Regions from separate parts of the Homo sapiens genome. Here all the other regions are linked to region 3. Evidence: fine-mapped expression QTL. A gene starts in region 3. Each other region holds a variant in brackets. All regions are shown on one strand. Distances are between the middles of the regions. Region 1 has its middle 29 kb from the start of DNER. Region 2 overlaps FBXO36 (F-box protein 36). Region 3 holds the start of TRIP12 (thyroid hormone receptor interactor 12).

Region 1 (7,525 bases), 180 kb before region 3:
ATACCCAGTCTTAAAACAGTGGCTCATGCCTGTAATCCCAGAACTTTGGGAGGCCAAGGTGGTCAGATTGCTTGAGCCCAGGAGTTTGAGACCAACCTGGGCAACATGGTTAAACACCATCTATACTAAAAATAGAAAACTTACCTGGGCATGGTGGTGCATGCCTGTAGTTCCGTCTACTCGGGAGGCTGAGGTAGGAAGGTCACTTGAGCCTGGGAGGCAGAGGTTGCAATGAGCTGAGATCACACCACTGCACTACAGCCTGGGTGTCAGAGCAAGATCTTGTCTCAAAAAATAAAAATAAAAGGATTAAAATCTAACAAAGTATGTTCTATACCCACAATGGAATGAAATTTAAAATCAATAACAGACAAAAAGGGAAACTTTACAAATATGTGGTAATTAAACAACATACTCCAAAATAACCAAAGGGCAAAAAATGAAATACAAGGGAAATTAGAAAATGCTATGAGATAAATAAAAACAAAAACACATTATAGCAAAACCTGTGGGATGTACTGAAAGCAGTGCTTAGAAGGAAATATGTAGTTGTAACACCTATATTTAAAAAGAAGCCTGGCTGTGGTGGCCCACGCCTGTAATCCCAGCACTTTGGGAGGCTGAAGCAGAAGGATTGCTTGAAGCTAGGAGTTCGAGACCAGCCTGGGTAACAAAGTGGGAAAAAAAAGGAAAAATTAGTCAGGCCCAGTGGCATGCACCTGTTGTCCCAGCTACTTAGGATGCTGAGGTGGTAGGATTACTTGAGCCCAGGAGTTTGAGGCTGCAGTGAACTATGATCATGTCACTGTATTCCTGCACTCCAGCCTGGGTGACAGAGTAAAATCTTGTCAAAGAAGAAGGAGAAGGAGGAGGAGGATCCCAAATAAAAAACCTAATCTTCCACCTTAAGAAACTAGAAAAGGAAGGTAAAACAGAATGGAAATAATAGTTGTCGTGTATTATCTCTGAGAAACTGAGCCCATGAAATGAGATAACCATCTTTAGAGGCAATGTGTCAGGGTGTTGATAGCTGATTTCAGAGCCAAGAGTTTGAGTGTTATGTTTCCACAGAGTATAAATGTTGCAAACACACTTGGACAAGTGATGGGAGACGCAGATAATATGAAATAAAGGCCTATGCTGTGCATTTCCTGTTTTCAAAAGGCAAGGTACAGACTCCATCTTTGATAGCTATAAGAAGGTCTCACTTCAGATTGTTCTGCCCATGTTCGCTCCCGTGCTCATCTCCAGCCACTTTCACTTTGGGCCATTGTAAGAGATGCTTTCCCATCCTCTGAAAGATTATCAAGCAAATGGCTGGATCAGAGATACAAGAAGACAGGAGACCCTCTGGACCTTCAGGGATAACAGAGAACGCCGGGAAACAGCCAGGGAACATATGTTGTGGATAAGAGTAAGGAATCTGGATGAGAAGAATGGGGAGGCGAGTGGATGGAATAAGAGTGAGGAATCTGGATGAGAAGAAGAGGGAGGCAAGTGGCTGGATGTGTCTCCAGCTCTGCATACTAAGTCAGGAGCCCAAGGCTGATGAGTCTTGGGCTCAAACAATCTATTTTCCACACACGGCCCCTAGGAGCATGATTCCAAATTTCCCTGAACTAAGTGTAAACAAGTATTTGTATGATTCTCTGCAATGCTGAGGACCACCCCAGGCACTGGCTATGAAGGCAGACTCTAGAACATTCTCTCTGTAGCAGCAGTGACCACCTTTATACTGATCTTTTCTTCACCCAGCAAGACAAATATTAACTATCCCATTGCCCTTGAACTCTTACTCATTATCCCCCCAGATCCTCTCTCCCATTAGGGTTTTTTCATTAAGGTGTCATTACTACAGCAATAATATGTCCTAGATTTCTTCTAAGTAAGTGATTAAGTGTTTGATAATATGTGAAATGCGTGAAGTACTAAAACATACAAAACTAATCTATGTTGTTAGAAGTCTAGAGAGTGGTTGCTCTTGAGGGGGATAGTAGTTGAAATAGGGCACAAGGGAGATTTCTGATGTTCTGATAATGCTCCCTTTTGATCTGGGTGTGGGTTACATGGATGTGTTCAGTGTGAAAAAATTCATCAAGTTGTATACTAATGCTATGTGTACTTTTCTGCAGGCATAATTTTTTAAATTAACAAATAATAAAATTGACTTTTTGAGTGCACAGGCCTATGAATTTTAACACACACATAGATTCAGGTAACCACCATAATGAGAATACAAAAGCAGTGCAAAAAACTCCTCATGCTAGCCTTCTGTACTCATACCCTCTCCCCACCCAAAACCCATGTCAACCACCAATCTGTGCTCTGATCCTGTGACTTTTAGTTTGTCTTTTCAATAATGTCATACAAAAAGAAGCATGCAATATGTAATCTCTTTTTTTTTTTTTTTTTTTTTTTGTTTGAGATGGGGTCTTGCTCTGTCACCAGGCTGGAGTGCAGTGGTGCGATCTCAGCTCACTGCAACCTCCGCCTCCCGGGTTCAAGCAATTCTCCTGCCTCAGCCTCCCAAGTAGCTGGGACTACAGGTACACACCACCACAACCAGATAATTTTTTGTATTTTTAGTAGAGATGGGGTTTCACCGTGTTGGCCAGGATGGTCTCAGTCTCTTGACCTCATGATACCCCTGACTCGGACTCCCAAAGTGCTGGGATTACAGGCGTGAGCTACTGTGCCTGGCCTGCAATATATAATCTCTTTAAAAGGTTGACTACTGTCCCTGTCCCTGTCCCTGTCCCTCTCCCTCTCCCCATTGTCTCCCTCTCCCTCTCTTTCCACGGCCTCCCTCTCCCTCTCTTTCCACAGTCTCCCTCTGATGCCGAGCCAAAGCTGGACTGTACTGCTGCCATCTCGGCTCACTGCAACCTCCCTGCCTGATTCTCCTGCCTCAGCCTGCCGAGTGCCTGCGATTGCAGGCGCGCGCCACCACGACTGACTGGTTTTCATATTTTTTTGGTGGAGACGGGGTTTCGCTGTGTTGGCTGGGCTGGTCTCCAGCTCCTAACCGCGAGTGATCCGCCAGCCTCGGCCTCCCGAGGTGCC[A/G]GGATTGCAGACGGAGTCTGGTTCACTCAGTGCTCAATGGTGCCCAGGCTGGAGTGCAGTGGCGTGATCTCGGCTGGCTACAACCTCCACCTCCCAGCCGCCTGCCTTGGCCTCCCAAAGTGCCGAGATTGCAGCCTCTGCCTGGCCGCCACCCCGTCTGGGAAGTGAGGAGCGTCTCTGCCTGGCTGCCCATCGTCTGGGACGTGAGGAGCCCCTCTGCCTGGCTGTCCAGTCTGGAAAGTGAGGAGCGCCTCTTCCCGGCCGCCATCCCATCTAGGAAGTGAGGAGCGTCTCTGCCCGGCCGCCCATCGTCTGAGATGTGGGGAGCGCCTCTGCCCCGCCGCCCCATCTGGGATGTGAGGAGCGCCTCTGCCCGGCCCGACCCCATCCGGGAGGTGAGGAGCGTCTCTGCCCGGCCGCCCCGTCTGAGAAGTGAGGAGACCCTCCGCCCGGCAGCCACCCTGTCTGGGAAGTGAGAAGCGTCTCCGCCCAGCAGCCACCCCGTCCGGGAGGGAGGTGGGGGTCAGCCCCCGCCAGGCCAGCCACCCCGTCCGGGAGGAAGGTGGGGGGTCAGCCCCCCGCCCGGCCAGCCGCCCCGTCTGGGAGGGAGGCGGGGGGCTCAGCCTCCCGCCCCGCCAGCCGCCCCGTCCGGGAGGGAGGTGGGGGGGTCAGCCCCCGCCAGGCCAGCCGCCCCGTCCGGGAGGGAGGTGGGGGGGTCAGCCCCCTGCCCGGCCAGCCGCCCCGTCTGGGAGGGAGGTGGCGGGGGTCAGCCCCCCACCCGGCCAGCCGCCCCGTCCGGGAGGTGAGGGGCGCCTCTGCCCAGCCGCCCCTACTGGGAAGTGAGGAGCCCCTCTGCCCGGCCAGCCGCCCCATCCGGGAGGGAGGTGGAGGGGGGGTCAGCCCCCCGCCCGGCCAGCCGCCCCGTCCGGGAGGTGAGGGGCACCTCTGCCCGGCCGCCTCTACTGGGAAGTGAGGAGCCCCTCTGCCCGGCCAGCCACCCCGTCCGGGAGGGAGGTGGGGGAATCAGCCCCCCGCCCAGCCAGCCGCCCCGTCCGGGAGGGAGGTGGGGGGGTCAGCCCCCCTCCTGGCCAGCCACCCCGTCCAGGAGGTGAGGGGCACCTCTGCCCGGCCGCCCCTACTGGGAAGTGAGGAGCCCCTCTGCCCGGCCACCACCCCGTCTGGGAGGTGTACCCAACAACTCATTGAGAACGGGCCATGATGACAATGGCAGTTTTGTGGAATAGAAAGGGGGGAAAGGTGGGGAGAGGATTGAGAAATCGGATGGTTGCCATGTCTGTGTAGAAAGGGGTAGACATGGGAGACTTTTCGTTTTGCTCTGTACTAAGAAAAATTCTTATCCTGTTGATCTGTGACCTTACCCCCAACCCTGTGCTCTCTGAAACATGTGCTGTGTCCACTCAGGGTTAAATGGATTAAGGGCGGGGCAAGATGTGCTTTGTTAAACAGATGCTTGAAGGCAGCATGCTCGTTAAGAGTCATCACCACTCCCTAATCTCAAGTACCCAGGGACACAAACACTGCGGAAGGCCGCAGGGCCCTCTGCCTAGGAAAACCAGAGACCTTTGTTCACTTGTTTATCTGCTGACCTTCCCTCCACTATTGTCCTATGACCCTGCCAAATCCCCCTCTGCGAGAAACACCCAAGAATGATCAATAAAAATAAATAAATAAATTAATTAATTAAATTAAAAAAAATAAAAAGGTTGACTACTTTCATTCAGCATGCCTCTGAGAATCATCCAAGTTGTTGCATCTATCAACAGCTCATTCCTTTTGATAGATAAGTAGTATTCCATTGTGTAAATGTACCACAGGGCTTTTTTAAATCCATTCATCCATGGAATGATATTTCGGTTGTTTGCTGTTTTTGACAATTATGAAGCAAGTTGCTATGAATACTGTGTACAGGTTTTTGTGCAAACATACGTTTTCATTTCTCTGAGGTAAATAAGTAGAAATGCGTCTGCTGGCTCATGTGGTAAGTGTAGGTTTAACTTTCTATGAAATTGCCAAACTGTTTTTCAGAGTGGCTGTACCATTTTCCTTTCTCATCAGCCATGTAGGAGAGTTCCAGTTGCTCCCATTTTCATCAGCACTTGGTATTGTCAGTATTTTTTATTTTAGTATTCTAATTGGTGTATCACCATACACTAATTATGGTTTTAATTTGCATTTTATGGTGTATCACTATACCTAATTATGGTTTTAATTTGCATTTTCCTAATGGCTAATGCTTTTAAACGTCTTCCCATATACTTATTTTCCATCTGTATATAATGTGTCTTGGTCTGTTTGTGCTTCTATAACAAAATACCTTAGACTGGGTAGTGTATAAACAATAGAAATGTATTTCTTACAGTTCTGGGAGGATGGGAAGTCCATGATCAAGAAGCAGATTTGATGTCTGATGAGGCCAGCTTTCTGCTTCCAAGATGGTGTCCTATGAATGAACGCTGTGTCTTCACATGGTGGAAAAGATGGAAAGGGGCAAATCCACTCCCTCAATCCCTTTCATAAGGGCCCTAATCCCACTCCCATGACTCAGTGACCTTCTAAAGTCTCTGCCTCATAATATTATCACATTGGTGAATAACTTTCAACATATGAATTTCAGGGGACACATTCAGACCATAGCACTCTTTGGCAAATAACCAAGTCCTTTGTCCACTTTTTCATTAGATTGTTTCTTTTTGTATTGTTCTGTTTTGAGAGCTCTTTACATATTCTGTATACAATGTACCAGAATATATGTCTATTACATATACAAATCCTTGGTCAAATATGTGATTTGCAAATATTTTCTCCCAGTTTGTTAATTTGTCTTTCAATTCTCTTACCAGTGTCTTTGACAAAAGTTCTTAATCTTGAGAAGTCCAATTTATTGATTTTTTTCTTTCATAAATTGTGGTTTTATGTTATGGCTAAGAGCCCTTTGTTTAAACTCAGGCTGTGAAGATGTTCTCTTATGTTTTCTTCTTAAAGCTGTATAGCAAAACCTGGACTAGGGTGACATAAGGGAGGTGCCTAGGGCACAAAATTTAAAAAGCCTCTCACTTTCAGGATCATACTTGCATAACTAAAGTGAGTGCCTCCTTAAATTTTGCATCCTAGGTACATTCCTTTTTTCACCCTAGTCCCAGCCTTGTTTTATAGTTTTTTGTTTTACATGCAGTTCTATGCTCCGTTTTGAGTTAATTTTTATATAAGGTGGAGGTTTAGTTCAAAGTTCATTTTTTTGGCCTATGGATGTCTAATTGTTCCTTTGCCATTTGTTGAGAAGGCTGTCTTTCCTCCACTGAATTTCCTCCATTCTTTGCATCTTTGTCAAAAAATTAGTCGAACACATATGTGTGAGTCTATTTCTGGACTCTCTACCTGTTTCATTCATCTATATGCCAATATAAATCCCTTTGCTAATATCACACTGTCTTGATTACTCTAACTTTATAGCAAGTCCTAAAGTCAGAGAGTGGGATTCCTCCAGCTTTAATTTTCTTTTTCAAAGTCGTTTTGGCTATTCTAGTTTATTTGCCTTTCCATATACATTTAGGAATTAGCTTGCCTAGATTTACAAATAATCATGCTGATATTTTAATTTTATTTGTAATTGTGTTAAATCTGTAATTGCATCTACTGAGTAATGACAAGGTAGAAGAGAAGGCAAAGGTGATGGAGACACCAGTGAGCAGAGGAAAGGTAGAAAGAGAGGCTGATCTTTCATTATCTACCATGTGCCAGACACGGCTTAGGATTTATGTTATTTTATCTAATTTAATCCCCTAAACTAAACTATGAGACAGATAGTATCATTCTTACTTTTTGACTGAGGAAGCCGAAGCTCAGAAAGAGTCAGTAGTGGGAAGGCAGAGGCAGGCTGGGATCGGAACCCAGGATAGCTTTACTCACTCCATCAGCCTCCCATCTTTTTGCCCTAAGACTGCTTAAATCTGTCCATAGATCCCTAGTTAGAAAAGTGCATTCTCCCAAGAAGGGAAAAAATAGCTCTCATGGTCAAGAATAAACGTCAGAAGTTGGCCAAACATTCCAGTAAGAGTGAGGCCAAAGCCAGGTACAGTGGCTCATGCCTATAATCCCAACACTTTGGGAGACTGAGGTGGGAGGATCACTTGAGGCCAGGAGTACAAGACCAGCCTGGGTAACATAGTGAGACTTCATCTCCACCAAACATTAAAAAATTAGCCAGGTGTGGTGGTATACACCACACCTGTAGTCTCTCTCTTTTTTTTTTTTTCTTTTTCTTTTTCTTTTTTGAGACAGAGTCTCACTCTGTCGCCCAGCCTGGAATGCAGTGGCACGATCCTGACTCACTGCAACCTTCACTTCCCAGGTTCAAGCAATTCTTATGCCTCAGCCAGCCCCAAATATCTGGGGTTACAGGCATGCGCTGTCGCACCTGGCTAATTTTTGTATTTTTAGTAGA
Region 2 (7,525 bases), 26 kb after region 3:
TACTCCAGCCTGGGTAACGAGAGCGAAACTCCATCTAAAAAAAAAAAAAAAGACAAAACTGGTAATTGGGAGGATGAAAAGGAAGTAAAACAGGAGTAAGAACTTTGCATTGCGGCCCCAGGGGGTTGTGGTGGAGGGAAGGAAGCGGAAGCAGGTACCTGAGACCATAGGACTGTACTTCCATGGGACATGTATGATCCAGGTGGATACAAGCCAGGTCTTGATGCACTGCTGTGTTTAAGGTGTGCTGTGAGCTAAGCCTCTGCAGCATAGTTTATGCTCGTCCTACCCCCTTGTAAAAATTATCTTTTCAACTCGCCCATTGTCACCTCTATCCTTCATTCAGCCTTTGCTTATGCTACTCCTCCACTTGGAACACGCTTTCCCCAATCTTTGCCTAGTCATTCATCCTGTTAGATCTGCCTGCATCTCTGCCAAGAATCCCCTTAACTTGGCCTTTTTCAGGAGTGAGTTTGAGGAGAAAGCTTAGGAAATAATAAGCCAAATTTTTGTGTCTTAAACATCCAGTTAACTCTGGATAGTGACAGCCAACAACATGGAGTCATAAAAGCAAAGGTAAAAACTTGAATAAGCAACAAGACATTGAAGAAAATATCTCGACATGATCAGCAACAGGCAACATCAGTTTCTTAGCATCTCTTAAAGACTGATAGAGGAGAGACAATTTCTTTTCTAGCAAACAAGAGATGGTGAATGGAAATTAGCCTCTTCTAATGTAAGCTGTGTAGACTAAACACTGTAAGAGCCTAATGTTCAGCGTGCACATGGTCATGAATCCAGCTTTTAGTACAATGCCAAGCACAGTGTGAACTCAGTACATATTTGTTGCATTAATAAATATTAGTCCTATTTGCTGTTGGATTAAAAGCAAGTATAGAAGTCAGGCGCTGTGGCTCATGCCTATAATCCTAGCACTTTGGGAGGCTGAGGCTAGTGGATCACCTAAGGTCAGGAGTTCCAGACCAGCCTGGCCAACATGGTGAAATCCCGTCTCTACTAAAAATACAAAAAATTAGCTGGGCATGGTGGCAGGTGCCTGTAATCTCAGCTACTTGGGAGGCTGAGGCAGGAGAATCACTTGAACCCGGGAGGCGGAGGTTGCAGTGAGCCGAGATCACACCATTGCACTCCAGCCTGGACAACAAGAGCGAAACTCTGTCTCAAAAGTAAATAAATAACAATAAGAAGCAAGTATAGAATACAAAAATGGCACAAAGCAAGGAAGTAAGGCAGGAAGGGTTTTATGTAGGTTGTGACTATATGATATGAATCTCAAAAGTTATATTTTACAGAGTAAAGAAGTAGGGAGCTGGAATAATTCTAGGCAGGAGGGATTCATTTTAGCAGTCAGTGAATTGTGATACTATAGTTGGGAAGTACAGTGATGTGCTGAAATGTAGGGCATAGTCAGTGGCTAGTATGAGATGATGCTGAAGGAGAGATGGACAGGGGTCACTCCTTGGCCTTCTATGCCACCCCAAGGATTTGGGCCATGGGGAAGAAAAAGGGATCACATCGACACCAGCATCTTAGTAAGCAGCCTTTGGCTGCTGTGTAGAAGATTGCTTGGATCAGTTTAAGCCCATGGAGGCAGAGAGCTTTCTTATTAGATTTTGTCATGATCCTCTAAAGTACCACGGAGTTGAATGTCAAGTTATATTAAGGAAGTGAAATCAATAGAATTTAGTCATGGAGTTGATATTTTGTGATGATAGAGGCTAAGAAAGTCTAGAATGACTCAACTAGTGCCACCAAAATAAGGAATACAGGAAGTGGACTAGGTAGGTTTCAAAGGGAAGATGATGAGATCAGTTTTTTATAGCTGAGTATAAACTGCCCCTGTGGATTACAGGTGGGTGTGCACAGTAAGCAGCTGCATAATTTAGTAGGATTCAACATCAAGAGTGAAGATACAGATTTTGACTCTGCAGCACTGAAAACCATTTGGATTAGATTACCTAGACAGAGGAGGGATGTCACTAAGGACAGAGCTTCAACATTTAGAAGTCAGGCTGGGTGTGGTGGCTCACGCCATTAATCCCAGCACTTTGGGAGGCCAAGACAGAAGGTTCATTGAGACCAGGAGTTCAAGAGCCGCCTAAGTAACATAACAAGACCCTTTCTCTACAAAAAAAAAAAAAATTATGTTTTTAAAAATAAACATTTAAGAAGTTAAGGCAGAGGAACACTTGTGTCCCCACATTTACATGTTCTTTTTACTTTTGGGGAGAAATGTACATCATTGATATTGGTGTTCTAATCTACACAAGTTATTTGAGGTTGGGTTAAATATTTTTCATTGTAAGTAACGAATTGCTTTTAGAGCAGGAACAGTCTGAAAAAACAGTGTTGGTAAAGGCATGGGAAAAGGCCTCCTCTGTGTGATGTCCCAAGGAGTGTAAATTAGTACATTCTTCCTGTGGCAGAAACCATTAGTTGCCCCCAATATCCATTTTCTCTTTTCCTTAGTAAACAATTATCTGACTTTTAGCCGAACACTTGGGCTTTAGAGAAAAAAAAAAAAAAAAAAAGACTTCATTTCTCATCCTCCCTTGCAGCTACAGTTAGCCACATGACTAAATTCTGGCCAAGGGAATGGCAGTGGAAGGGGTGACTGTGACTACACAGAAGAGTCTGTGAGAGTTGGACCCTTTTCATCTCTTCCTCCTTCCTACTGTCTAGAATGCAGATTCTGTGGCTAGGACTTCAGCAGCTATCTGGTACCACGCAAAAGCAGCCAAATTCTGAAAGTGACGGAAAACCCAAATGGAAAGGGGCCTGGTTCCCTGGGTTATGGACTGCCTACTGCCTCTTTATTTTATTTTATTTTATTTTTTATTTTTTTGAGACGAAGTCTCATTCTGTTGCCCAGGCTGGAGCGCAGTGGCATGATCTCAGCTCACTGCAGCCTTCGCCTCCCGAGTTCAACTGATTATCCTGCCTCAGCCTCCCTAGTAGCTGGGACTACAGGCGCCGGCCACCACACCCGGCTAATTTTTGTATTTTTTAGTGGAGACGGGGTTTCACCATATTGGCCAGGCTGGTCTTAAACTCCTGACCTCGTGATCCGCCCGCCTTGGCCTCCTAAAGTGCTGGGATTACAGGCATGAGCCACTGCGCCCAGCCTCAGGATGCCTCTTTTTTTTACATAAATGCCTGTCTGTATAAGCCACCCTTTTGGATGTTGTCTCATTCAACTGGACCTAGTTCTGTCTGATGTGCTTCCCAAAGACAGCTTAGCAATGTTTTGTCAAGTGTAACGTGTGCACGTCCTTTATTCTGGCATCCCACCTCAGGGAATTTACCCTAAGGAAATAATTACACAAATAGGGAGTGGAGAAGAGTAAAATAAAAGTCCTTCAAAGAAAATTGGTTAAGTAAATTAAAATTATGTAAAAAGGAACACTGTGAAGCCACTAAAAATAATGATGCTATATTTAGACATCACATGAATAGATGTCTGTGACACTAAAGTATAAGAAGAGATTATAGACAAGCATGTTTAGAATTATCCCATTCATGTAAAATGTA[T/TACAC]ACACACACACACACACACACACACACAGATTAATCTGTGTAAGTATATAGATGCTGAGAAATACTTGGTAGATGTCTATAAGTATAAAAATATTCCAATATTCTTTGCCAGGCATGGTGGCTCACACCTGTAATCCCAGCACTTTGGGAGGCCAAGGCGGGCGGATCACGAGGTCAGGAGATTGAGACCATCCTGGCTGACACGGTGAAACCCTGACTCTACTAAAAATACCAAAAATTAGCCGGGCGTGGTGGCGGGCGCCTGTAGTCCCAGCTACTCGGGAGGCTGAGGCAGGAGAATGGCGTGAACCTGGGAGGCGGAGCTTGCAGTGAGCCGAGATCGTGCCAGGGCACTCCAGCCTGGGTGACAGAGCGAGACTCCGTCTCAAAACAAAAACAAAAACAAAAACTTGTCTCTGGAAAATGAGACACATTAGATGGCAGCCAACTGGAAGAAATTTTACATTAACTTGTCTCAGGAAAAATTAATCATAGCATGTAGCTTCAGTGCCTCCAGCAGCCACCCTGAGCTCTAGGACAGGGGACACTGGCCCAGGGGAGCTGACAAGAGCAGTGAGACCAGGAGCTTGCTTTAAAATCACAGCCCAGGCTGGGCGCAGTGGCTCATGCCTGTAATCCCAGCACTTTGGGAGCCTGAGGTGGGTGGATCACGAGGTCAGGGGTTCGAGACCAGCCTGGCCAGCATGGTGAAACCCCATCTCTACTAAAAATACAAAAATTAGCTGGGCATGGTGGCACGTGCCTGTAATCCCAGCTACTCAGGAAGCTGAGGCAGGAGAATCGCTTGAACCCAGGAGGCAGAGGTTGCAGTGAGCCGAGATCACTCCACGGCACTCCAGACTGGGCAACAGAGCAAGACTCCATCTCAAAAATAAATAAATAAATAAAATCACAGCCCAAAGGGAAAAGAGAGAGCTGAGTGCAGGATAGTGAGGGAGGAATGTGAGGTATGGAGGTAAAGTAAGTTCTGTCTAAGGTCAGAAATGTCAAAAGACAACATTACAACAAATTTTATCATAGATCTAATTAGCTATTATTCGCAATTCATGAGTCAGGTCAGCCTCCTTTCCACAGAACGGAATGAGAGCTCCCACTGAGCAATGGCCGAACAGTGGGTTTTGTAGGATGGAAAACAAGGAAACAGAACAATAGGGAAAAAAATCATATTGGTTAACACAGGTTACTTCAGGCTACTTTTTTTTTTTTTTTTTTTTTTGAGACAGAGTCTCGTTCAGCCGCCCAGGCTGGAGTGCAGTGGGGTGATCTTGGCTCACTGCAACCACTGTCTTCTGGGTTCAAGTGATTCTCCTGTCTCAGCCTCCCAAGTATCTGGGATTACAGGCATGCGCCATTATGCCCCACTAATTATTTTATTTTATTTTATTTTATTTTTGAGACGGAGTCTCGCACTGTTGCCCACACTGGAGTGCAGTGTTGTGATCTTGGCTCGCTGCAACCTCCGCCTCCTGGGTTCAAGCGATTCTCCTGCCTCAGCCTCCCGAGTAGCTGAGACTACAGGTGTGTGCCACCACACCCGGCTAATTTTTTGTATTTTTAGTAGAGACAGGGTTTCACCTTGTTAGCTAGGATGGTCTCGATATCCTGACCTCGTTATCCACCCACCTCAGCCTCCCAAAGTGCTAGGATTACAGGCGTGAGCCACCGCGCCCGTCCCAGGCAACTTTTTTTTCTTCTTTTTTTTTAGACGGAGTTTCGCTTTTGTTGCCCAGGCTGGATTTCAGTGGCGTGATCTCGGCTCACTACAACCTCCGCCTCCTGGGTTCAAGTGATTCTCCTGTCTCAGCCTCCCAAGTAGCTGGGATTACAGGCACGTGCCACCATGCCTGGCTAAGTTTTGTATTTTTAGTAGAGATGGGGTTTCATCGTGTTGGTCAGGCTGGTCTTGAACTCCTCATCTCAGGTGATCTGCCTGCCTTGACCTCCCAAAGAGCTGGGATTACAGGCGTGAGCCGCCGCGCCCAGCCCAGGCTACTTTTTTGTAAAGCATTAAAGCAGAAAGGACTTCCTTATGATGCTTACTCAGGTAGACTGGAATCTCCTGATTTCAGGGAAAATCGATCTGCTTTGGGATCTATCTTCTCCCTTAAAGTTTCAGTTGGATGATGGGGCATTTAGAAGAAGTGATTCCATTTTAGTTGGTCTGCTCTCTTGGGGCCTAGTGCAGGAGCACAGGCCAAAACAATGGTCTCCCATAATTTTGTTTAACTGAAGTCAGCAAGTGGAAACAAGGAAAGATCTAGATTATATGACTTGTCAAGTGATTGCAAGTGATTTTGCTCAATTCCAATTTAGCTTAAACACAAAGGACCCTGGAATGCTTTGGCCATTTGAGCCTGAGAATGAAACCTCATAAATATTGACACGAAAGCTCTCGCCAAGTTTTGCACTGTGGTCATGGCTATAACTTGGTGAAAAAAAAATTTTGCATGAAATGTTTTATTTAAACTTTTTTTCAAGAAAATGTTTTTTTCTCCCTAACAGAACATTTCATAAGTTATTTTAATTACTGTATCTAATTTTTTTTAGGCATTGCTTTATTTTAAATTGTATGTTTGAAAATTTATAACTATCATAACCAGACTGCAGGCCAAACAACTTCAGGTTTGGTGGAGAAGGACATTCCCTTGAATTTTCTCCTCTTCTTTTCCCTCTAGTTTCTGCTTTTCTCCCTTAAATCCTCTTCATTCCTTGCCTTAGGGGAGTTTCCCAAGACAACACCTTGAGATGCAAGAGTTTAGGAGTTTTAAATTTCAAAAGCCCAAACATTGGGTAGAGGCTTAAAGTTTAAGACACAGATAATAGAATGGTTAGAATATGCAGAGTCCATCTCTGTATTCTCTAATCAAGCAAACATCTCAGATTGCAAGAGGGAGAAGATATTCTCAGAGAATGAGGTTAGATACTGCTGTTTCCCATGAGGCATCCTCAGCTTTCAATCAAGTTGGGGAGTGAAAGTCAGTAAACCAGTGGCTGAGCAAACCTCCGCCCCGACCTTTCTCACAGGGCCACAGATGAATGGGAGAGCCAGCCGAGAAATCTAAAGTGCCTCGCATCCCCAGCAGTTTGCTAAAGGAGGTAGTGGCTGGACAGGTTAAGACACCCTCCCAGCCCCCCAGCCTCCTGCAGTACTCAGGGAACCATTAGGCACCTTATTCTGCAGCCACCAGTGGGGCAGTGTTGCCAAGAGGGTACCAGGAGGAGAATCCTGCAGCCTTGAGCTGTGCAACTGATAACGAACTACAGATGGGATGGACGCCATCTTACCTGATGCTGGCCAGTAGATCATGACATGGAGAACTCCCCGCTATTCCTGAGAAACTTGGACTTTGACTCAACAGAGAGGTGAGGGAGGTGCCAACGTGACCAATATTTGGTTTTAGGAAACATTTTCTCGGGTTGGGATGGAGAGAGATGTTTTTCCCTGTTTACTGTGTTCATTTTGCCATGTGCATGTATTGCCTATTTGAAAAGAAAACGGCCGGGTGCGGTGGCTCACGCCTGTAATCCCAGCACTTCGGGAGGCTGAGGCGAGTGAATCACCTGAGGTCTGGAGTTCGAGACCAGCCTGGCCAACACGGCAAAACCCAACCTCTACTAAAAACACAAAAAATTAGCTGGACGTGGTGGTAGGCGCCTGTAATCCCAGCTACTTGGAAGGCTGAAGCAGGAGAATTGCTTGAACCCGGGAGGCGGAGGTTGCAGTGAGCGGAGATTGCGCCATTGCACTCCAGCCTGGGCGACAGAGTGAGACTCTCAAAAAATTAAAAAAAGAAAAGAAAAATAAAATAATATTCAGTTAGAAAAAAAAATTTCTTGGCAGGTGTGGTGGCTCTTGCCTGTAATCTCAGAACCTTGGGAGGCCAAGGTGGGAAGATCGCTTGAGCTCAGGAGTTTGAGACCAGCCTGGGCAATATGGCAAAACCTCATCTCT
Region 3 (7,525 bases):
AAAACTCCCTCAATCTCACAAAGATAGTCACAGCAGTTCAACATTTCTGGGGCTGAACACACAGCAGGAAGTGTCAAAAGAAAGAATTAGAAATTCTGTATACTTTAAAACTTACACTTAATATTGATCACTTTGCATGTGGTAAATATGAAAATCAGCCTCAATAAAATCCTCTACAATTTATTGTCTCTAAACCTCTGCTAATTCCATTCCTCAACCCCCCCGGGGTGTAAATGCGACACACACAGGCCTCATATACAGGCCTCTTGCCTTTTTTTCTAACACAACTAGGACCTTTGTTCTGAGCGTCGTTTTACCCCACTCAATAGCTCTTTCAACTTTCTACCCCGTATTTTTTGTTTTGTTTTTAAAGAGGAGACTCTGAGACTCAACTTGCTAGGTCTTTAAAAAATGAAATGCCAAAAATACCTAATGAGACTCTCGAGAGGAACATAAAGTTAAACACATCACTAAAGGGCCTACAAAACGGAGTAAAGCCCGGAGATCGGGTGATCTGGCAGCCCAGGCAAGATCGAGGACCGCGACTAGGAAAGGAGACAGCAGGAGAGCAGTTAGACGTCCACTTAGAACGGATTCACTGCGCTATTAACCGTACCCGCCTCCCCCCGCACCGGCCCAACCTTTACACACAAACACATTCCCTCCCCCAATTAACTAAAGAAGCAATTAAACTATGCCCACCACCAGACTCGATGCTTAGGCTAAACCTCCCCCAAAGTAAAACAGCATTATCAAAAAAACACAACATTTGTCTTAAGGGTTTGGAAGCTGCCCCTTCCGTTATCTCCTCACCACGTAAGGTAACCAATTCCCTCCTGTCCCCCACCAGGAGTTCAAAGTGTGATTTCCCCCCGATTTACATGTGTTTTTATGTTTTTCCGCATTTTTCCGTCTAGGAAATGAAGGATTTCTTATTCTGAGGAAGGGAGAGACGCCGAGGAAGACAGGATTTGAGGTTTTACTACCTTCGTTATTCGAACTCCCCTCTAACTTGTTCCTGTACTAGAAACCCACTCACTATGGAGAAGGAAGGAGAGGGGCTGAACTGATGGACAAACGTTGTAAATAATAGGTTTTATGTAATCCACATATAAATAAATTAATCGCCTGACTCGCTCTGAATGCTAATACGATTGGGGTGACAATTGGCCCACCTCCCTCCCCCAAGTCCTAGTTAAACCCACCTACCACCAATTTCCATTCTGATCTATTTAAAAGGATACTCTATTCCTCTCAGTCAAGTTTCTCGGCTTCTTTAGGCCTCCCTGCATGCCCCCCTCGTCATCATCCTCCCTCAGCCTCAACTTCCCACGGCTTAAAAAACTGCCCCGCGCAGACCCCGTCTCCGGGCTCGCCCTCCCTCAACCGTCCCTCGCCGTCCCCCTGGGCAGGAAACCCCTTACTGCGGTCTAAAGTCTCTCTGGCCTCTCCCTTCTCTGACCCTCGCTTCCCACAACTGTTGTCACTGGAGCTGCTTCCTAGTTTCCATTTCCGGGCCGTCCACGGCCCCGGAGCCTCCCCTTTCCCGATTTCCGGGCCCCTCGTCCCATTTCCGGGGAACCCTTGCCGTCTTCACACCCCCCACCTGCACTTCCGGCCCCCCACTTTCTCTCTTCCCAGACACCCTCCAAGCTCCAAAGCCCACTTCCGGCCCCCCTTGGTCCCCGCCGAGCTCCCCAACACCCGCAAGCCTTACCCCGGTTCTGTGAAGGGCCCTCCTCATTGCGGGAAGCCGGAGGAGGGACCCAGCGACCCCTACCTCCCGCCAGGCCCCGGTCCCTCCGGCCGCGGCCGCCCTCGAGCGTCTCTCCCGTCCACCCCCGGCCCGGTCCTTCCGCGGCCCCGCCGCCGCCGGCGCCGGGAGCAGGCCAAGCGGGGGCCGAATCGCGGCGATGACACAACCGGGCTTCCTGGGACTTTCTGTTCCAGCTCCTCCCCCCGCCCCCCCAACCCCTCAGCTGGCCCCCTCCCCCAAGGCTTGCCCCCGCCGCCCAGAGCTGCGCCCCAATTACCTAGTTAGGCCCCAAAGTCTCCGGTCCGGACTCGGTGGCGCGGCAGTAACTTCCACTAGCTCCCCCCACCCCCCCCAGCGGCGCGGCGGCGGCGGCTCCGGGTTCCTTCAATTATCAGCTGAGCCGCAGCACCGCGCCCGGCGTGCGCCTCCGCCCGTGCCGCCTCCCTCCCCGCCTGCTCTGACACCCTCGGGGAACTACTTTGTCCTCGGGCTCCGGTTACGGGCTCGTCCGCGGGACCGGCACCGCTGCCTACTGGCGGCCCATCACATCGCCCCTCCCTCCCACGCCTCCCGGCTCGACTCTCTCAGCAGCCTCCGATCTCCGCCCGATCCCTTCGAGGGACCAGGAAGGGGACTGTGGAGATCTACTTGGTATCCCTCCGCCGGGGTCACCCCCTCCCCTCCGTGGTAGCAGGAACTAATTCCCCCTCGGGTCACCCGGGACCTGGAGCTGGAAATTTCACGGATCAGGGTTCCCTAAGACCCTTGGAAGAGGGGACGATCGCCCCAAGTTAGAAATCCTTCTGCCAGCTCATAAGCGTGGTTCAATTTAAACTAGGGTTTTGGCCCCTTGACCCCAACCAAGCCCCGCCCCTTCCTGGTTGTCTTAGCGACGGCGGTGGCGTCCCAAGATGGCGTCGTGGCTGCCGGAGACTCTCTTTGAAACTGTAGGACAAGGCCCGCCGCCTAGCAAAGACTATTACCAGTTACTGGTCACCCGGTCTCAGGCAAGTGCGAGCCGCGGTTTACCCTCTCTCCTAACTCCCTACCTGGCCCGGTTGGGGCCCGGGACGCAGGCTGTGCTAGGCCAAGAGCAACCGTAGCCCGCCGGAAGCGCCCAGTCCCGGCTCCGCGCCGGGAGATTTTCCTCGTCACCTCGGCCTCCTCGGTCCGACGGCCCGCGTGTCCCTGCTCTCCCCGAGCCCGGCTAGTCCCTGGCAAGCCTTCTCTGCCTCCCCGCGGTGCCGCGTGCTCCTTTCCCGCCACCCCGGCTTCTTACCCGTAGAGTTTCCTCCGCGCGAAGAGGAAAACGGGCGTCTCCGGCTTGCGTGCGGCCTCACCTCAGCGTGAGAAGGAGGGAAAGAACGACTCAGCCAAGTGTCCCAAGGAGGAGCCGGCTAGGGAGGGGAAAAGGAGATTGCCTCTTTTCCAGGATAGGAATTAATCATGGAGAATTTTATAAATCTCTTTGTGGCCTTTACGCGTGCCACGGCCACATCAAAACTTAGTTATTTCTAGTAGCAACTGACGATTGGGAGCTCTTACCTTTTGGAGTCCCTTCTATCCCATTGAAAGTGTGCGGGTGGTGGTATAAAAATGTTTCAGCTGCTCTGCGCTTCAGCCCCACCCATAATGACATCTGCTCCACAACAATAAGACCGAGGATTATATTATCTCCAAAGTAACCATCGGCCTATTTTTATGCCTACTTTGGTTATTGAAGGTGGGCTTTTGGATGATTTACTGTGTCCATGAAATTCTCAACTTGAGCGGGGCCTCCATTGGGAAGACGTTTCTAATCCTGGCTGAGTTTACGCCTGTCACTGAGTTATTCATGCACCCTGCCCTTTCAATAGATACTATTCCTATAAAATGAAATTTAGAAGTTTGTATATATTTGTTTTGGTGTGCATATTGATCATTCCCTCAGTTTTTCCAGGAGCCCTTAAACAAAATAGGTAATGAGTTAATTTTTTTATATTTTTGAAAGCATCTTTTAAAATATAAATGTTAATATATATTTTTTAATTTAAGATTTAGAAATATTACAAATGTAAAATCAGCCTGTCCAAAAAAAATTTTTTTTAAAACAGTACTGCTCCTTGCGGAGCAGGGCTAATTCATAGGCAGTGGGCCCAGGGTCAGACTCAAATTTTTAATTAAACTGTTCTTAGGGGGTTTTGCACATTTAGTGATGTATGAAATACTGAAAGGTATCCTTTTCTGTACTTTTTTTTTGGTGTTGTTTTTTTTTTTTTTTTTTTTTTTTGAGACGGAGTCTCGCTCTGTCGCCAGGCTGGAGTGCAGTGGCGCGATCTCGGCTCACTGCGACCTCGTTTCACCATGTTGGCCAGGATGGTCTCGATCTCTTGATCTCGTGATCCGCCTGCCTCGGCCTCCCAAAGTGCTGGGATTACAGGCGTGAGCCACCGCGCCCGGCCTTGTACATTTTTTAAACGGATTATTGATTTTTCCATTTGTTTTAAGATTTGTTTGTTTATTTATCGAGAGGGAGTCTCCCTCTGTTGCCCAGGCTGGAGTGCAGTGGCGCGATCTCAGCTCACTGCAACCTCCGCATCTCCTGGGTTCAAGCGATTCTCCTGCCTCAGCCCCCCGAGTAACTGGGATTACAGGCGTGCGCCACCACACCCAGCTAATTTTTGTATTTTTAATAGAGACGGGGTTTCGCCATTTTGGCCAGAGTGGTCTCCAACTCCTGACCTCAGGTGATCCAGCTGCCTCGGCCTCCCAAATTGCTAGGATTATAGACTTGAGCCACCGAGCCTGGCTGGCTTTAAGATTTATGATCCTAACATTTCTTCACCTCCTAACATGAGTGGTCAAAAATATAATCTGTTCTAATCTTACATGATTTTCTATTTTTATCTACCTCAAGTAAGTTAGAATGTTTTAATTTTTACAGCCTTTAAAAATTTGTCTTTTTTTGCATTTTCTTTCCCCTGAAGGTCTGGTATTTTACAAGTATGCTTCATTTCTCTCATTTGTAAGCCTCACCAGGCTGAGTATCTTGTTACCTTTTTATTTTAGTAAATTATCCTTAGGAGTGCTCCCTGGCATTCGGCTTCCTAAAGAATAATTCTGTTGTTGGTGTTCTTCAGACTTTGCTCTCAAGTCTAACTTAGGCGCATGCCTTCCTCTAACTACTCTTTTTTTTTTTTTCTTTGAGGCAGCGTCTCGCACTGTCGCCCAGGCTGGAGTGCAGTGGCTCAATCTCAGCTCACTGCAAGCTCCGCCTCCTGGGTTCACACCATTCTCCTACCTCAGCCTCCCCAGTAGCTGGGATTACAGGCGCCCGCCACCACGCCCGGCTAATTTTTTGTATTTTTAGTTGAGATGGGGTTTCACCGTGTTAGCCAGGATGGTCTCTATCTCCTGGCATTACAGGCGTGAGCCACCGCGCCCGGCCCTAACTACTCTTTTTTAAGAAATCTTTCCCACCATCCCTTCAGTGTTCTTAATTTTTCTTTTTCTTTCTTTATTTTTATTATTTATTTATTTATTTTTTATTTTTTGCAAGTGAAAAACTCTCCTTTATCTCAGGTTCTGTCAGTTACATATATATAAAATCCTAAATTCTGATCCATTTTCTTTTTTAAGCATGCTGAATAAATCCACTACACTTCTACCAGTGAGAGTTAATCTCCAAGCTAATTAATTCACCCTCTTTTTAAAGTAAAATTTGTTGTAAAAAATGGCATGCCAAAAAAATATACTTTTCAGTCAACTGCCTTGAGAATATGCTATTTTCTAACCACAAGACAATTTTTCTGAGTCTCAGCACAGGAAACCAAACATCCAGTAAGAGGTGGCCTGACATAAATAAGTACTAAAAGACTAGCATTAAAATATGTTTTATAAGATAGATTTTTTTTCTGGAATGACTTTCTAAAATTATTTCTTGTACATTTCCTCCCCTTTCTCCTGTCTTTATTTTTTTAATGTTGTATATTATCCAAATTATGCCCCAGATTTAGATGAATCCTTCTTTCATGCTGATTCTGTTTTTTAGTCTCTTTTTCACTGCATCTTTTTCGTTGGCCTTAAATCCAAATAACTGCACATTTGACATGGATTTGAGGGCAGATATTTCTCTCATTAGTGTCATACCACCACTGACATAGTCCAGAATATAAATGTTATACATAAACATTTTCTTTGTTTATATAGTAACATTTGAAATATACTGTATGCTTATACAGGCACTTCTCTTTTACTGCTTGATACCATGTTGTTTTGGGTCTTGGGAGAGGGGTTTTATTCAAATAAATAACTTTTGGATTACAGCTTGGGGTCAGTTTAGTTTCTCGAAGCTGATCTTTATAATGATGATCTCCAGCTTTAGAAAAAATAGTGCGCTGCTTTCTAAATCAAAGATTCACTCAAGGGTTGGGCACAGTGGCTCAAACCTGTAATCCCAGAATTTTGGGAGGCTCAGGTGGGAGGATTGCTTGAACTAAGGAGTTTCAGACCAGCCTGGGCAACATAGCAAGACCCCTTCTCTTAAAAAAAAAAAAAAAAAAAAGGGGGGGCTGAGCACAGCTCATGCCTGTAATCTCAGCACTTTGGGAGGCCGACACAGGCAGATCACTTGAGGCCATGAGCTCGAGACCAGCCTGGCCAACATGGCAAAACCCCATCTCTACTAAAAATACAAAAAATTAGCTGGGCATGGTGATGCACGCCTGTAGTCCTAGCTACTCGGGAGGCTGAGGCAGGAGAATCGCTTGAACCCTGGAAGCAAAGGTTGCAGTGAGCTGAGATCACACCACTGCTCTCCAGCCTGGGCAACAAAGCAAGACTCAGTCTTTAAAATAAATAAATAAATAAATAAGATTTACTTGGCCAGGTGTGGTGGCTCACACCTGTAATTCCAGCATTTTGGGAGCCTGACGGGTGGATCACTTGAGGTCAGGAATTCAACACCAGCCTGGCCAACATGGTAAAACCCTGTCTCTACTAAAAATAAAAAAATTAGCTGGGCATGGTAGCATGAGCCTGTAATCCCAGCCACTGGGTAGGCTGAGGCAGGAGAATCACTTGAACCCAGGAGACAAAGGTTGCAGTGAGCCGAGATCTCACCACTGGGCAACAGAGTGAGACCCCATCTCAAAAACAAAAAAAAAAATACTGTTATTCTTACTCTAGCTCTAGTAGTTTACATATATTTTCTTATATTGGATTCTAATTCTTTGAAAACCAGTAGATTAATAAAGTGTTAGGGGTGGAAAGGATCTTTGTTTTTTTTTTGTTTTTGCAACAAGAGCCTCACTCTGTCATCCAGGCTGGAGTGCAGTGGGGTGATCTCGGCTCACTGCAACCTCCACCTTCTGGGTTGAAGTGATTCTCCTGCCTCAGCCTCCTGAGTACCTGGGATTACAGGCACCCGCCACCATGCCCAGCTAATTTTTGTATTTTTAGTAGGGATGGGGTTTCACCATGTTGGCCAGGCTGATCTTGAACTCCTGGCCTCAAGTGATCTGCCCGCCTTGGCCTCCCAAAGTTCTGGGATTACAGGGGTGAGACACCAAACCTGGCCAGGGCTAGAAAGAATCTTGAATATTATTTAGTTTGTACTTTCATGACACATATATATTCCTATTTATAGTGGGGAGAATGTAGCTAGTATTTGATTTGTAAAAACACTTTAATGACTAATCTTTTATATGTTGTATTTTTTTTTAACTCCAAAGGAAGTTCATGACCAATTGGCAAGTTAATGAGTGCAGGTGTTTTAAAATCTATGAGTTT

Evidence for each region.
Region 1: its variant is fine-mapped to the expression of TRIP12 in whole blood (TOPMed, PIP 0.98).
Region 2: its variant is fine-mapped to the expression of TRIP12 in whole blood (INTERVAL, PIP above 0.99).

Annotation. Positions count from the first base shown.
Region 1 is chr2:229,739,386-229,746,910 of GRCh38, forward strand. No RefSeq gene overlaps it. Among named protein-coding and RNA genes, the nearest start is that of DNER, 29 kb to the left of the region's middle. RefSeq lists an enhancer at 4,001-4,821. The variant A/G (reference allele first, on the strand shown) is at 3,064.
Region 2 is chr2:229,945,986-229,953,510 of GRCh38, forward strand. All of the region lies in intron 1 of FBXO36 (F-box protein 36), which reads left to right. Among named protein-coding and RNA genes, the nearest start is that of FBXO36, 27 kb to the left of the region's middle. RefSeq lists an enhancer at 6,978-7,525. The variant T/TACAC (reference allele first, on the strand shown) is at 3,553.
Region 3 is chr2:229,919,847-229,927,371 of GRCh38, forward strand. TRIP12 (thyroid hormone receptor interactor 12) reads right to left here and starts at 2,163. Exons shown (of 42, transcript NM_001348323.3): 1 at 2,034-2,163. FBXO36 (F-box protein 36) reads left to right here and starts at 2,657. Exons shown (of 4, transcript NM_174899.5): 1 at 2,657-2,763. The coding sequence starts at 2,668. RefSeq lists enhancers at 481-580, 1,218-1,718, 1,719-2,219, 2,876-2,935 and a silencer at 1,656-2,045.